Homo sapiens: one gene and its partner. The protein of the gene in region 1 purifies or fractionates together with the protein of each later gene. This does not show direct contact. Each region holds a gene or a part of one and is shown in the gene's direction. Other genes may lie near its edges.

Region 1 (3,819 bases):
GGGACTGAAAAAGACAAAGGTAACTGTGGAGTTGGAAAGTCTTGTTTGTGCAATAGATTTGTACGCTCAAAAGCAGATGAATATTATCCAGAGCATACTTCTGTGCTTAGCACCATTGACTTTGGAGGACGAGTAGTAAACAATGATCACTTTTTGTACTGGGGTGACATAATACAAAATAGTGAAGATGGAGTAGAATGCAAAATTCATGTCATTGAACAAACAGAGTTCATTGATGACCAGACTTTCTTGCCTCATCGGAGTACGAATTTGCAACCATATATAAAACGTGCAGCTGCATCTAAATTGCAGTCAGCAGAAAAACTAATGTACATTTGCACTGATCAGCTAGGCTTAGAACAAGACTTTGAACAGAAGCAAATGCCTGAAGGGAAGCTCAACGTAGATGGATTTTTATTATGCATTGATGTAAGTCAAGGATGCAATAGGAAGTTTGATGATCAACTTAAATTTGTGAATAACCTTTTTGTCCAGTTATCAAAATCAAAAAAACCTGTAATAATAGCAGCAACTAAATGTGATGAATGCGTGGATCATTATCTTAGAGAAGTTCAGGCATTTGCTTCAAATAAAAAGAACCTTCTTGTAGTGGAAACATCAGCACGATTTAATGTCAACATTGAAACATGTTTTACTGCACTGGTACAAATGTTGGATAAAACTCGTAGCAAGCCTAAAATTATTCCCTATTTGGATGCTTATAAAACACAGAGACAACTTGTTGTCACAGCAACAGATAAGTTTGAAAAACTTGTGCAGACTGTGAGAGATTATCATGCAACTTGGAAAACTGTTAGTAATAAATTAAAAAATCATCCTGATTATGAAGAATACATCAACTTAGAGGGAACAAGAAAGGCCAGAAATACATTCTCAAAACATATAGAACAACTTAAACAGGAACATATAAGAAAAAGGAGAGAAGAGTATATAAATACTTTACCAAGAGCTTTTAACACTCTTTTGCCAAATCTAGAAGAGATTGAACATTTGAATTGGTCAGAAGCTTTGAAGTTAATGGAAAAGAGAGCAGATTTCCAGTTATGTTTTGTGGTGCTAGAAAAAACTCCTTGGGATGAAACTGACCATATAGACAAAATTAATGATAGGCGGATTCCATTTGACCTCCTGAGCACTTTAGAAGCTGAAAAAGTCTATCAGAACCATGTACAGCATCTGATATCCGAGAAGAGGAGGGTGGAAATGAAGGAAAAATTCAAAAAGACTTTGGAAAAAATTCAATTCATTTCACCAGGGCAGCCATGGGAGGAAGTTATGTGCTTTGTTATGGAGGATGAAGCCTACAAATATATCACTGAGGCTGATAGCAAAGAGGTATATGGTAGGCATCAGCGAGAAATAGTTGAAAAAGCCAAAGAAGAGTTTCAAGAAATGCTTTTTGAGCATTCTGAACTTTTTTATGATTTAGATCTTAATGCAACACCTAGTTCAGATAAAATGAGTGAAATTCATACAGTTCTGAGTGAAGAACCTAGATATAAAGCTTTACAGAAACTTGCACCTGATAGGGAATCCCTTCTACTTAAGCATATAGGATTTGTTTATCATCCCACTAAAGAAACATGTCTTAGTGGCCAAAATTGTACAGACATTAAAGTGGAGCAGTTACTTGCTAGTAGTCTTTTACAGTTGGATCATGGCCGCTTAAGATTATATCACGATAGTACCAATATAGATAAAGTTAACCTTTTTATTTTAGGGAAGGATGGCCTTGCCCAAGAACTAGCAAATGAGATAAGGACACAATCCACTGATGATGAGTATGCCTTAGATGGAAAAATTTATGAACTTGATCTTCGGCCGGTTGATGCCAAATCGCCTTACTTTTTGAGTCAGTTATGGACTGCCGCCTTTAAACCACATGGGTGCTTCTGTGTATTTAATTCCATTGAGTCATTGAGTTTTATTGGGGAATTTATTGGGAAAATAAGAACTGAAGCTTCTCAGATCAGAAAAGATAAATACATGGCTAATCTTCCATTTACATTAATTCTGGCTAATCAGAGAGATTCCATTAGTAAGAATCTACCAATTCTCAGGCACCAAGGGCAGCAGTTGGCAAACAAGTTGCAATGTCCTTTTGTAGATGTACCTGCTGGTACATATCCTCGTAAATTTAATGAAACCCAAATAAAGCAAGCTCTCAGAGGAGTATTGGAATCAGTTAAACACAATTTGGATGTGGTGAGCCCAATTCCTGCCAATAAGGACTTATCAGAAGCTGACTTGAGAATTGTCATGTGCGCCATGTGTGGAGATCCATTTAGTGTGGATCTTATTCTTTCACCCTTCCTTGATTCTCATTCTTGCAGTGCTGCTCAAGCTGGACAGAATAATTCCCTAATGCTTGATAAAATCATTGGTGAAAAAAGGAGGCGAATACAGATCACAATATTATCATACCACTCTTCAATTGGAGTAAGAAAAGATGAACTAGTTCATGGGTATATATTAGTTTACTCTGCAAAACGGAAAGCTTCGATGGGAATGCTTCGAGCATTTCTATCAGAAGTTCAAGACACCATTCCTGTACAGCTGGTGGCAGTTACTGACAGCCAAGCAGATTTTTTTGAAAATGAGGCTATCAAAGAGTTAATGACTGAAGGAGAACACATTGCAACTGAGATCACTGCTAAATTTACAGCACTGTATTCTTTATCTCAGTATCATCGGCAAACTGAGGTCTTTACTCTGTTTTTTAGTGATGTTCTAGAGAAAAAAAATATGATAGAAAATTCTTATTTGTCTGATAATACAAGGGAATCAACCCATCAAAGTGAAGATGTTTTTCTACCATCTCCCAGAGACTGTTTTCCCTATAATAACTACCCTGATTCAGATGATGACACAGAAGCACCACCTCCTTATAGTCCAATTGGGGATGATGTACAGTTGCTTCCAACACCTAGTGACCGTTCCAGATATAGATTAGATTTGGAAGGAAATGAGTATCCTATTCATAGTACCCCAAACTGTCATGACCATGAACGCAACCATAAAGTGCCTCCACCTATTAAACCTAAACCAGTTGTACCTAAGACAAATGTGAAAAAACTCGATCCAAACCTTTTAAAAACAATTGAAGCTGGTATTGGTAAAAATCCAAGAAAGCAGACTTCCCGGGTGCCTTTGGCACATCCTGAAGATATGGATCCTTCAGATAACTATGCGGAACCCATTGATACAATTTTCAAACAGAAGGGCTATTCTGATGAGATTTATGTTGTCCCAGATGATAGTCAAAATCGTATTAAAATTCGAAACTCATTTGTAAATAACACCCAAGGAGATGAAGAAAATGGGTTTTCTGATAGAACCTCAAAAAGTCATGGGGAACGGAGGCCTTCAAAATACAAATATAAATCTAAAACCTTGTTTAGTAAAGCCAAGTCATACTATAGAAGAACACATTCAGATGCCAGTGATGATGAGGCTTTCACCACTTCTAAAACAAAAAGAAAAGGAAGACATCGTGGAAGTGAAGAAGATCCACTTCTTTCTCCTGTTGAAACTTGGAAAGGTGGTATTGATAATCCTGCAATCACTTCTGACCAGGAGTTAGATGATAAGAAGATGAAGAAGAAAACCCACAAAGTGAAAGAAGATAAAAAGGTAAGGTTAACTTAAGGTCAGTGATGTTTATAAAAATGCTTGTTGTTACTTTTTTAAAATACTGACATCAGTGTTAGAATTTAGTCTCATTCATTCCATACATAATAATTAGTAGCCCTTTTTAATTTTCTGAGTATTCTGTGGGGATAAGTGATTTTTTGTTAT
Region 2 (4,333 bases), on another chromosome or scaffold:
TGGGAAGGGGTGGCCATAACCCAGGGGAGCACAGTCAGGCCTGGGAGGAGTTACCAATCATGACACTTTGAACGAAGAATCAACAAGATCTGTTGATTGCAAGATATTCTTCTATTAGTCTGGCTTCCCATGCAACAACTATACAACAGGTGCTGGGTTGGTGGTGAGGGTTTAGAAAGTTGATTTTAGCCTGGAGCTTGCCTTCTGGGAGCTGACAGTCTTATAAGGGAAATAAGACAAACCGAACATAGCTCCAATTCCAGACAAAGAAGGAAAGGAGACTATGGGTCAGGGCAGGCTTCCTGGAGGTGAGGGGCTGAGCTGGGCTTTGAAGAGTGGTGGTGTCTGAGAGTGCTAGTGAAGGATGACACCAGGGTTTTGACTTAGTAGTGCTAGTGACAGAGATGGGCAAATCTGCTGGGATTAGAGCATGTGGTCCAAATGTAGGTGGAAAGGAGAAGTCCTGCAGTTCCTGTTCTTTGGTAAGTGGTTGACTTGGGGGTCACAAGGTGACATTTACAGGCATCAGAATGAATGGATTCTTAGGGAGGAGAGAGAGGAGGAAAGTTTCCGGTAGGAGCCAGTTCTTAGGGCTCCAAGGGAGGCAGACACCCAGGAGCAGCAGATGCCGTGTCCTGGGTAGGAACACGAAGGGCCCAATGAAGCTCTTCCTTACTAGCAAGGCGGCTGTTGATTGTTCTGGCCCCAAACATTCACCACTCAGGCCATCTCAGAGAAGCAAGAACCCAGGAGGTGTCAGCGGCCTCAGCCCACAGGGGATCCAGGAGAGAGGGGCACGAGTGCACCCCACCTGGTTCCCTCGTGGCGACTCCATCCTGCGGGCCCTGGGAATGCACAGGGTGGCTCCGGGGACCTTTCCGACAGCACTGTGGGTGACACTGGGATGGGTCTGAAAATGGTGTCGTGTCCTCCTTTTCTGGATCTCCCCTCTCCGACCAGGAGGCCTGTGGCCATCTCGGGGCGCAGGCAGGAGGCACTGGAAGCGGAAGCGAGTGGGGAGTCCGGGTAGAGGGAGTCGCCCACCTGACCGGCTTCGCCCCCTCCGGGGTTTGCTGCAGCTGAGGGCCCCGGACCAGCGATTCTAGAAGCCGGTCCGGGGCCGGGCAGTCCAATAGCTTCTCGCGGATTTCCCTCCGCTGGCGCGCAGCAGCGGCGCGTGGATTCGCGCGCGGGCTCGGGACGGCGCGAGCCCGGGCAGCGCGAGCCCCTGCGCGGCAGGGAGTGGCGCATGCGCGGGCGTCCTGCGAGCCCGCTGGGGCGAGCCGAGCCGCGGCGGCGCCGGGAGCCGGGCGGCGGAGCTGTGAAGAAGCAAGCGGCGGCACGGGAGCAGCGGCGACGGACAGGTGGCGAGCCTTCGCCCGCGCCGCCAGGGGCTGCTGGGCCACCCGCGGAGCCTCGCGGTCCAGACGTGGCGGGGGTGGCGGCGGCATCCCGGACGGCCTGTGAGGGATGCGCCGCCCACTGCCCCGCGCCGCCTGACCGTCCCCGCCTCGACTCGCGGTGCGCCACAGCCGGGCCCGCGGCCGTCCCCGCCGCGTTGTCGCCCGGTCGCCGCGCCCGCGGGGCCGCGCCCGGCACGGCCATGTGGACCCCCACGGAGGAGGAGAAATACGGCGTAGGTAGGTGAGGCTCAGGCCTGGCCGTGGCGGGGGTTCTGGGGGACGCGCCCAGCTCCCGGCCCCGCCTGGATTCGCATCCTCGTGCCCCCGCCACTGCCCGCAGGCTGCGCGGCCTCGGCGCGGGGCGAGCGCGGGGTGGGGGCAGGTGCGGGTGCGGGTGCGGGTGCGGGGGTGGGCGCGGGTCTCTGTGCAGAGAGGGCGGCAGGGGGCGCTGGCGGTGCGGCCTTGGCAGGTGCGGCCCGCGGGAGGGGTGGGCAAGGCCCGGGCAGTTGCCCGAGGTTTCTGGTGTGGGCCACGGGGCAATTTTACCCGATAAACCAAATTCTGGGAATATGTTTTCTCCCCTCCAAAAGCTCGATTTTAATGAGTTTCCGCACCTGAATTGATGAGCCCGATGGCTGTTTATTTTTGATCTGGAACCTTACAAGAAAACGGATGAAAAACGTTGACATCATTTTCCCAGTTCAAAAATTTGGACATTTGACTGCAAATGTTTGATCTGTTTTAATTTGTTTTGCCTTTAGTATTAGAAATAATACCTTACGATGGGAAATGTTTTTGGACATGTATCAATGTTTATACGGTTTTTTTTTTAAACCCTGTTTTCAGATGAGACCTTATTCCTCTTAGAAACCTTTTTTTAATGTTGTAAGTGTTAAACTCCAGAAGCTAAATAATTCTTACAATATTCAACTTCTTTAAAAAGAATATTCAGTAATTTAAAGTATTGAATGTTTTACAATGTTAGTGTTTTGTGGCAATTACATGATAGAGTTAAGCCTCATTGCATCACCTATCATCTTGTTCAGTTAGAAACAGATTTAAAATGTTGAGTGTACAGGTTTTGTTTTTCCTAAGCTCGTAATGGAAAATTTTAGATAGGAAACCTGTCTAAACATAGATTTTTGTTTCCCATCTTTACCGCAATTTAATCAAGATTTAGTTCACAATTCACTACAAAATAACTTGAAACTGCAGTGGTAACGAATGTTTTGGAATGCTATCAGGCAGGTTATCGTGTGAAAATTGAATTTATTTAAATTCGAGGACCAGCAGAGAGGTCTTCTATTCTGGTAGAAGATCTTGTTTTAAAAGGTAACTTTCTGAAACAATTAGGTATGTTAGGATGGAGGTGATAAAGGGAGCTCTGGTCCTAGAGTCTCTATTGAGAAGGAATTGAGAAATGATGCGAAGAGCTGGGATTCACCTCTAGGGACATTTTACCCCTTCTCTTAGAGTATTCCCTGAATACTGAGTTGATTCTGTGAAGTGAGGAGTTGGTGGTTTATCTTCTCCATAACTCGCTCCCAGAACTGCTGAACTAGAATAACAAATAATTGATGTGAGTGGTCAACTCTCCAGTGGCACCCCATGATTGATTTTTTTGGAGGGGGGAGGAGCCCTATTTTGGCGGGGGTGGGGGCGTGGGGGGAGGAGCCCTTGAATAGTGGACAAAGTGGAATTCAGAGTCCTAGCTTCTCTTTACTGGTGGTGTGGGCAAGTAATTTAACATCATTTAACGTCATTTTATTAATGTATAAATTGGGGATAATGTTTACCTATCTTACAGGATTGTGAAAGTGAAATGAGAACGTGCTGAATGCTTAATAGTTTCTTCTTTTCCCTTAGTATTTAGACTAATAACACTAAGTGTGTTCTGAGACAGAGCCAGTGCAAGGTAATCAAGATAGGTACATGTGAATCTCAAAGCACTAGGATTTGGTGTGTGATTTTCCCAGCAAGATGCAACGAAATTCTTGCATTCCTAGGATTGTGTTTTTAGCTTTAGAAAAATTGTTATTCCCTTTGGAGGGCCACAGCATTGGGCTCAGGGCAGAGCTTAATGCTTGCTAAATGAGAGAGACAGTTACACTGAAGACATTTTCATAGCAGCTGTGGTTTAGCATAACTTAGATGCCTTTTCTACCAAACCAAGCAACTCTCTATTTATCTCACAGTCTTCCACTGTCCCTTCCTTAGTTATGATCTAAAAGTTTTTGTGTAAATTGTTTAAAACTCAGGACACATTTTTTTTCATAAGGATGTTAGGGCTACACTTCTAGAACTTTTCATAAAATCCACTTTATAAAGTAGCTTATACATTATACTTATGAGAAAAATAGTCAATTAAAACGGCATTTTTGCTGCATCATTTGATTGCTATGAGGGCTAGCTTGAAAATATAACCATTATCATTTTCCTGTGAGAAAATGTTTGAGTTTCAGCTTTGATTTTTATGACTAACTTGGAGCACAGATTTGTGTCTTTGTTTGTCAACCTATAATCACATAGCAAGGAGGGAAACCCCTTACACTTACTTCCTACCAATTTGGAGAAATTTGTGGAGGAGGGCCTCGAGGGCCTCCTTTTGCCCTGATGTTAGTGAGGGAAGGAGTCCCCTGTTGCAGCAGTACAAAGGGTTTTTTCCACTGCAGCTGTTCATTTGTATTTGACATTGATAAGGCTTTGAGATCCTGTAGTAATACTTATTAAATTTTTTATAATATAGGAATTCTGTACAGGTTATAACATGACTGAATTGTTTGGTTTATTCATTTAGGATGAGGTGATGACTGAGCCCCCCTTTCCATTGTAATATTCTGTGAGTGATTTTAGGCAGTGGGGAGGACATTATCCTTTCTGAGGGTCAGTGATAGGCCTGTCAGTGTGCCTGGGACTCTCACTTAGGTAAC

The links.
Region 2: the proteins of ARHGAP5 (region 1) and DOCK3 purify together in Homo sapiens (affinity purification with western blotting; one study listed by BioGRID and IntAct). This does not show direct contact.

What each region holds. Positions count from the first base shown.
Region 1 is NC_000014.9:32,090,733-32,094,551, forward strand, and holds part of ARHGAP5 (rho GTPase-activating protein 5), read left to right. Parts: coding exon 1-3,654; intron 3,655-3,819. UniProt on the Homo sapiens protein: GTPase-activating protein for Rho family members.
Region 2 is NC_000003.12:50,673,661-50,677,993, forward strand, and holds the start of DOCK3 (dedicator of cytokinesis protein 3), read left to right. Parts: upstream 1-1,266; 5' UTR 1,267-1,603; coding exon 1,604-1,640; intron 1,641-4,333. UniProt on the Homo sapiens protein: Potential guanine nucleotide exchange factor (GEF). GEF proteins activate some small GTPases by exchanging bound GDP for free GTP.